3 separate regions of the Homo sapiens genome follow, and regions 2 and 3 are each linked to region 1. The links come from fine-mapping of genetic effects on gene expression. A gene starts in region 1. Each other region holds a variant in brackets. All regions are shown on one strand. Distances are between the middles of the regions. Region 1 holds the start of MARCKS (myristoylated alanine rich protein kinase C substrate). Region 2 has its middle 6.3 kb from the start of LINC02518. Region 3 has its middle 170 kb from the start of LINC02518.

Region 1 (2,765 bases):
GAGCCAGCACCAGGAGAAATGAACCATTCCCTCGACTGCTTCTCACCTTCATAAGCGAAAGATTATTCCTTGCAAGATCACCAAATGTAAACGAGAAAAGGTGGTCTGATTTTGCCACGAGTGAAAACTTTGGGAAGAAAATGCTTATTAAGCTGTTTCCTTGGTTCCCCTCACCCCTCATACTTTAAGTCAGTGCCTTGTCTCTCACGCACAAAAAGCGTCTGGTACTTCGGTGGCAAGGAGTGCAGTGACAGATGGAGGTATCCTGTGTACCATTATAGAAGGTTTTCCTCTAACCCAAGTTAGACTTGGAGAGCTCAGGGATCTTGCTATCTCTCAACATACAGAACATTTCTCCTTAGAACTGCAATCCGGTTTAGAATGTCATCGTTGCTGCTGCCTCCCTTCCTTTCAGGAGCACATTCGCCTGCGTGCGCACTCACACACACGTTCAAAAAGAGTCCATTCGATTCTGGCAGTAGGCTGAAAACGATCCATATTGACGCGAATAACATCCCAACTGTAAATATGGATTCGTCTACTCGAGGCTGTGTCTCATTTCACCATAGAGGAAAATTATGTCATTTAAAACAGTGATAAAACGCGAAGAGTTTCGATCTTCTGTAAATGGCTCTCACTTTGAATTGTGGGGGAAAAAAATCACTAATTGGGAATAGCCAGAGAAGGGGGAATTTGTTGAGCGCCCAAGGCCAATCTCAAAATATTTTATTTCATGCCAATGTGGGAGAGGGAAGGGAGTGTGGCTTCGCTGTTTGCCGCTTTTGCATTTTCCACATCTGGCCTACAGACCTAATTCTAACTTGCGATCTCGCTTGATGAAATTCGATCTTCGTGGTTTAAATACCTTTCAATTTGGGACGATTTAACCATTGCAGCAGTTCAAAAAACAAACCCTGAGCATTATCTGTAAAACCAATATGGAAAAAAGAAAGAAAACATGCTGCAAACACACAAATCGCAACCATTGTCTTTAACACTCGCATACACACACATACACATAAACACACGGAAAGATGGGGGAGGGGAGCGAGTGGAGAGAGAGAGACACACGGATATAGACCGACGAGAGTCAATGCGAGTCAAGTTAACGCTTTCTCCGCCCCGATGCACAAGTACCCCCCTCCCGTGTTAATTAATTCCAAACAAAGCAAGCCAATCAAGAAATGCATTATTATTTTCAAGCAGAGAGAGACGAGTGCCATGTATTTTTTAATTGATTTATTTATTTGGAGGACATTAATTCTCGGTCTGAGGCTGATTTTCAAACCGTTTGCAAAGCGCGGCTCCATTGTTCGCCAGGCGCGCAGACCCCGCCCCCTGCTTTGTGTGCGGCGCGCGGATTGGCCGACGCGCGCGGGGGCCGCGTCAGCGCCCGCGAGCCCATTCATCTGTGCACTTGGGCGTTGGACCCCGCATCTTATTAGCAACCAGGGAGATTTCTCCATTTTCCTCTTGTCTACAGTGCGGCTACAAATCTGGGATTTTTTTATTACTTCTTTTTTTTTCGAACTACACTTGGGCTCCTTTTTTTGTGCTCGACTTTTCCACCCTTTTTCCCTCCCTCCTGTGCTGCTGCTTTTTGATCTCTTCGACTAAAATTTTTTTATCCGGAGTGTATTTAATCGGTTCTGTTCTGTCCTCTCCACCACCCCCACCCCCCTCCCTCCGGTGTGTGTGCCGCTGCCGCTGTTGCCGCCGCCGCTGCTGCTGCTGCTCGCCCCGTCGTTACACCAACCCGAGGCTCTTTGTTTCCCCTCTTGGATCTGTTGAGTTTCTTTGTTGAAGAAGCCAGCATGGGTGCCCAGTTCTCCAAGACCGCAGCGAAGGGAGAAGCCGCCGCGGAGAGGCCTGGGGAGGCGGCTGTGGCCTCGTCGCCTTCCAAAGCGAACGGACAGGTAAATTCTACCTGTGGTTGTGGTCATTTATTTCGTGTCTTTCTCTCCTTCCCTCCTGGTGGCTCCCAAGGCTCATTCGTGGAGAGGAGTGTGGCTGGATTCTAGTCTGAAAGTTGAATGGAAATGGATAGCCTAAATTGTGGATTTTTCATAGCCGGGGTCCCCCCACACCAAAGGAGTGGTTCCTTAGAATCCTGGAGAATTCTTGAGTAGACGGGAGGAAAGGAGTGATAAATCGTCTAAAATGGCGTGGTTTGGAGATTGGCAGAACGTGACTAGCTAGGTGCCCTCCTTCCCCCGCCCCCAGCCAGGTTTCATTTGTGTTTGGGGGCACAATGGTGTTTGGGTGTCTCTCGGGTTTGTTGTCGAAGCTGGATTGTCTTCGAGATTTCTGAACTGGTGGTGTGATTGTGTGTGGCGGGGGGGGGAGTCGGGAAAGGGGGGCGCAATGGGGATGGTGGTGGAGAAAGGCGAGGAGGGAAAGGCTGTCTTATTGTATGCCGCGGCGGCGTGCCCTGGGTTCTTGGAAAGGTGGCTGGCTGGGGCCAGACAGAGGGCTTCGGTACCTTTTGATGAGGCTTTCCCACTGTCCTAAATCTTTATTCGTAGCTGTCTGTGGAATTACACATCCATTTGATTTTTAAATGGTATCTGTGGGGTGGGAACACTCGGTGGGTCCTTTAAGAACCTTTCCAGATGGTCAAAAAGAGGCGGTTCGTGCCTTTCGGTCGGGATTGTTCTTGTGCGTGGCGCCTCGACCACCCGCGAGGGGCCGCCCGGCGCTGCCCGGACCCAGGCAGATAGCCACGATTGGGTGGACCCGAGAGGTCGGCCATGGGTGGCTGCTTC
Region 2 (2,765 bases), 420 kb before region 1:
TATCCTTCTCTGCTCAAAATGCCACATTTTCTACAAAGTCTCCTCCGAGTCCTGAGATAGAGCAAGTAGCTATTTCTAGTGTTTCCATAGCACTATGTTCATCTCTCTGTCATAGTATTCATCATGATTTTCCTTCAATAATTTGGTTATGTTTTATTCCTCCAAAGATTCTCTGCATCCCTTGATGGCAGGGACCAAGGCTTTGCCCTATGGCCAGAATATATCAGAGCACATAACAGATTTTTTTTTGAATTAATGAATAGACTTCTTTCAATAAGTTATCTTTCTAATACACTTAGTGAACACCAACTAACTAACAGGCACTCTGCTCGATCCCAAGTTACACACTAGTGATCAGTATGGTCAGGTCCCTGCTTCCAGGATGCATAGAGTGTATCCTTATATGATACTTCATCAATGACAATATCCTTGTTCCCTCTCTTTCTCATTCCATTTTCTATTTTCCTACTACCTTTCTGTCTGTTTCCAGCTGTTCTTTTTTCCTTGATGCTTCCCTAAGCATGACATTGCACACATGGGCATTGCTTAGATTGCTTAGTGTCTCTAATAAAGAGATAGCTATAATGGCCAACAAGTTACCCCAGGCCCAGGTTTAGATTATGATCTTCATGTTGCCTGCAAAGCTATGGGTACATGAAAACCTATTCCCATTTCCCAGATATCACTTAGAGAAAAATGAAGGAAAAAATAAGTCCTCCCATGGCTGCATGACTTGAAATTTTTATCTTTTCTTATCTTCACTGTCCCAAGTGAGTCAAATGCTCAAAACTGTTATTGTCTTTTAAAATGTTGATTAAACTAGTAGTGTTAGTGAAGATGATATAACTACCTAGAAGATATATGCTCCATCACTGCAGGAAATTTGGTCTCTTTTTACCTTGATAGACTCACAGCTCCTAGAATATTGCTAGCACATAGCAATGCTCATTGAACATTTTAAAATGTGTTCCTTGATGCTATAATTTCTTTTCCATTCATGCTAGGTTTAAAGATTACCTGAACTATTTTCCATTAAAAATGGCTTATGTGGCTCAGTCAGGTCACTAAACCTAAGTCTTGGTTGTCTTTTCATAAAACAGGGACCTCATTAGTACCTCCCTTGCATGGGAATGTTTCGAGTATAAGAGAAAATGCATGCAAAGCATGTAGTCTAATGTCTTCCTAGACTACAAACTGAAGAAATGCATTGAGGCTGAATCCAGGGTCTATCTAATAATCTTTTATTCTCTGTACACATCGTTTAAAAAAAATGCTTATCTCTGGTTGTCCATTATACACCGAGTAGACTGGCTTTCTTTAAAGTTAGGCTCTTTGAAACACAGGATATATCAAATCAAAACTTATTAAGCACTTGTAATGTACCAGTTATTATGTTAGGTACTAGAAATACAAAGAAAAACTAAGATATATTCCTTTACCTAAAGAACTTTACTATCTCATAAGGAAAATAGACAACGTAATGGAAAATTACAGAACAAGATGTGAGGTTTACTAAGACTGAGACAGAAAAAAGGATCATTTAGGGGGAGCACCCGACCCAGCCTGGGAAAGAAGGAGATTAAGGGAGGTTTTCCAGAGGATGTTAGTTACAAAGAAGTCGGGGTTAGAGGAGCTGCTCTGAGTGGAAGGAGCAGGCTGAACAAAAGAACCAGGAGCAGAAATGACATGATCAATTAAGAGCATGCAGGTGACAC[G/A]TTTTGACTGGAGCACATAAAGAAAAACAAAATTATGTCAAGAACTAAAGCTGTGCGATCGTGAGCACAAGTCAGGTCTGCATGAAAGGGCTTTGTATGTCATGCTGTCGATTTTCAACTGTGTCTTTATGGCTAATGGAAAACCCATGAGTAATTTTAAGCAAGAGGGTATCATCACCAGCTTTGCACTCTAGAAAGATCACTGCAGTGAAAATGTAAGGATTTTACCTTACATTTTCTGGAAGGATACTAGCAGGGGTTCACAGCCTTTGGTATGCACAGCAATTACCTACAATTCTTTTTCACTAGGTCTGATTGGTTTCAAACATAGGGGATTTGGATGCAGAAAATCTGTGATTTATACTTTGAGAAACAGGAAGAATTAAAAACAAAAACAAACAACAACAAACTATTGCAGTAATCTAGGAGTTGAGTTATGAGGGTGTCCACAAAGGCAATGGTAGTGAGATTGAAGAAAGTAGCTGAACTTGAAAAATATTAACAAGAACCTGGAGATTAACTAGATGTGAAGAAAGGAAGAGGGGAGACAGAGGCCTAGACAACTGGATAGACTTTCCATGAGATGAGAAATCACTGGAAATAGCAGGGCTGGAAAGAAAGCTGATTATTTCTTTCTTCATATATCGAAGAGGAGGTACTTTGAAATATCCCTTTGGAGCTTTACTGTGTTGGGGTTTGAGAGGTCCAATAAACATCACCCCTCTTTCCTACCTGAGTTTGGGACTAATTGAGAGGAATCTAGCATTTGGAAAAGCTATCACCTTTGTTACCCTAAAAGCTAGATCTGAAGATGTGGCTTGGGTACTACAGTCCAGAATTGGGCAGATCTACGCACCTAGTCACAAAGGACAGAGCAGGGTGTGTGCTTCCTGCAGACAGCTGGATTCCAAAAACAAGATGCTGGTCTGGGAAGGTCCAGTTCCTTTCTCTAAACCCACCAAGCAGAAAGACCATATCTTCACCCTAGAAAAGTGGTGTGTAAAGGAGATTAGAAAGACCGGAAGTGTTGCTCTGATGGAAGATCCTTTC
Region 3 (2,765 bases), 590 kb before region 1:
CGTGAACCTGGGAGGCGGAACTTGCAGTGAGCTGAGATTGCACCAGTGCACTCCAGCCTGGGCCACTGAGCAAGACTCTGTCAAAAAAACAAAAAGGGTGCATTCTACTCCTAACTGCTGTTTGCAATTGGGTAAATAAAGTCATCAGTTGTTCATCTGTATGAAATCATAACTGAGCATTTTCAATTAACTGTGTGGAATGAATCACATATGAAGAATCAGAAATCATATTAATAGGCATATCAAAAGCGGTCAATACCTAAATTACAGCTACAAGCTCTGCTTTTTGAGCTGAAGTATAGGGCATCTGAAAAACTTTACATTTTGATCCAGAATAAGAAACTTTACCATTACTAGACCCATCTGTAAAACAATGAAAATGCTTAGCAGGCTGCAGGTTGTTCGCTGCAGGAATTGTAAAAGTAAACTGTTCACAGTCTTGCTCAGCTAAGGGGCTAGTAAAGAAACAGCCTTTTAAATCTATGACTATTAAAAGCCAATTTTTTGTAATTATAGCAGGAGGAGGCAATCTCGGCTGTAATGCTCCCATAGGTTGTAAAACTGAATTGTTGGCTCTTAAGTCAGTTAACATTCTCCATTTACCTGATTTTTTCTTAATTACAAAAACTGAAGAATTCCAAGGGGAAAATGTTGGAGCTATGTGCCCATTATCTAATTGTTCAGTAACTAATTCCTCTAAAGCCTCCAGTTTCTCTTTACTTAGTGGCCATTGTTCAATCCAAATTGGCTTATCTGTTAACCATTTTAAAGGTATAGGTTTTGGAGGCTTAAAAATGGCCACCATCAAAAATGATATCCTAAACCTTGGTGGGAACTTTGTCTTTCCTCTTGAAGCCGTTCTTTCAAACCTTGCAAATTTTTTCCTAGTACCATACCAGGGACATACCCCATTTCATGCATCATATGTTGATTTTGAAGGCTATATAATTGTTCCAGAATTAGAAGTTGTGCTCCCTATTGCTGTAATAAATCTCTCCCCTATAAATTTATAGGTACAGAAGTTATAAGTGGTTGAATAGTCCCAGGTTGTCCATCGGGCCCTTCACAATGCAAAATATAACCACTGTGATATACTTTGGGGGCGTTACCAACTCCAACTATGTTATATTGAGTGGGTTGAATTGGCCACGTTGATGGCCAGTGCTGTAGAGAAATGATTGAAATGTCTGCTCCTGTATTTACCAAGCCTTTAAATTTCTTTCCCTGAATAGTTACTTCACAGGTAGGACATTTATCAGTAATTTGATTTACCCAATAAGCTGCTTTGCCTTGTTTATTCATGCTTCCAAATCCTCCTGTTCATTTAATTTCACTTTTCCCCCTTTCCACATATGGCACAATCAGGAGCTGTGCTATG[C/T]GCTCTCCTGGCTCTGCTTTCCAGGGAACAAAAGTAGATATAACAATTTGAATTTCCATATTGTAATCTGAATCAATGACTCCTGTTTGTACTTGTACCCCTTTTAAATTTAAACTAGACCTTCCTAAAAGTAATTTTATCATCCCCACTGGCAAGTGTCCATGGACCGCTGTTGGGACCTTTTGCAGGGATTCCCCAGGCAGAAGGCTCACAGCTTTTGTGCAGCATAAATCTACTGTGGCACTACTGGCTGTGGTCGGGGACAAACCTTGTACAGGGGTGAGGGAATGGCCTGAGCCGAAAATGCCCCAGTTTGGAACAAGGCCAGGGATGGGCCCCTCATGGTGTATCCCAAATTTAAAAGGAAAAGGCTCAAATGTAGCTATAATATTTCCCTGTTGATCTGGAGGGTGTATTCTAACAGGGAACTGCCAAGCCTCTAAATCACCCTCTCATCTAGCTTGCTGAATTCCTGCCTGAATAGAATGCAGAGCAGTCACTCAAGGTGCTGCTCAAATAGTCACTGGGGCAAATACTTTTCACCCAGTGTCCTCTGGGAAAGAAAGATCTGGAGGGTCAGGCCACTCTTTTTCTTCAAAATAATAATGAGGGGGTGAAGAAGGGTAGGGATGAACCTCTCCCTCCTTTACCACTTTAGCTTTAGCTGCAAACAAACCTGCTCTATAACGTCTTCTGTTACTTTGTTATACTCCCCTTCCTCCACATGATCAGTGTGAAAAGGTTCCAAGGTGGAACGAACCAGAGCTCAAACTTGTCCCATTGTTACCCTGATGCTTCCAAACTCCCCTTGTTACTCGCCATGGGGATTGCTTTAAGAGTACTCAGGTGTCCTCCACCTTAGTTCCACATTCTCCAACGATTGCTCCAGCGACCCTTCAACCAGGGTTTGAGCCCCATGTTCAGCGCCACTTGCTGAGACTAGCTCAGTTATTGAGACCCTAACCCAGCGGTGATAGAGGAATTAAAGACACACACACAGAAATATAGAGTGTGGAGTGGGAAATCAGGGGTTTCACAGCATTCAAAGTTGAGAGCCTCAAACAGAGATTTACCCACATATTTATTGACAGTGAGCAAGTGATAAGCATTGTTTCTATAAATTATAGATTAACTAAAAGTATTCCTTATGAGAAACAAAGGGATGGGCTGAAATAAAGGGATGGGCTCTGGCTATTTATCTGCAGCAGGAGCATGTCCTTAAGGCACAGATTGCTCATGCTATTGTTTGTGGTTTAAGACCACCTTTAAGCAGTTTTCCACCCTGGGTGGGCCAGGTGTTCCTTGCCGTCATTCCGGTAAACCCACAACCTTCCAGTGTGGGCATCATGGCCATCACGAACATGTCACAGTGCTGAAGAGATTTTGT

The links. PIP is the estimated chance that this variant, and not a neighbour inherited with it, causes the effect.
Region 2: its variant is the best candidate, but not a certain one, in a credible set for the expression of MARCKS in whole blood (TOPMed, PIP 0.69).
Region 3: its variant is the best candidate, but not a certain one, in a credible set for the expression of MARCKS in whole blood (TOPMed, PIP 0.63).

The regions. Positions count from the first base shown.
Region 1 is chr6:113,855,932-113,858,696 of GRCh38, forward strand. MARCKS (myristoylated alanine rich protein kinase C substrate) reads left to right here and starts at 1,414. Exons shown (of 2, transcript NM_002356.7): 1 at 1,414-1,916. The coding sequence starts at 1,815. RefSeq lists enhancers at 169-228, 249-298, 569-1,114, 1,115-1,658, 1,446-1,495.
Region 2 is chr6:113,438,396-113,441,160 of GRCh38, forward strand. No RefSeq gene overlaps it. Among named protein-coding and RNA genes, the nearest start is that of LINC02518, 6.3 kb to the left of the region's middle. The variant G/A (reference allele first, on the strand shown) is at 1,716.
Region 3 is chr6:113,265,675-113,268,439 of GRCh38, forward strand. No RefSeq gene overlaps it. Among named protein-coding and RNA genes, the nearest start is that of LINC02518, 170 kb to the right of the region's middle. The variant C/T (reference allele first, on the strand shown) is at 1,379.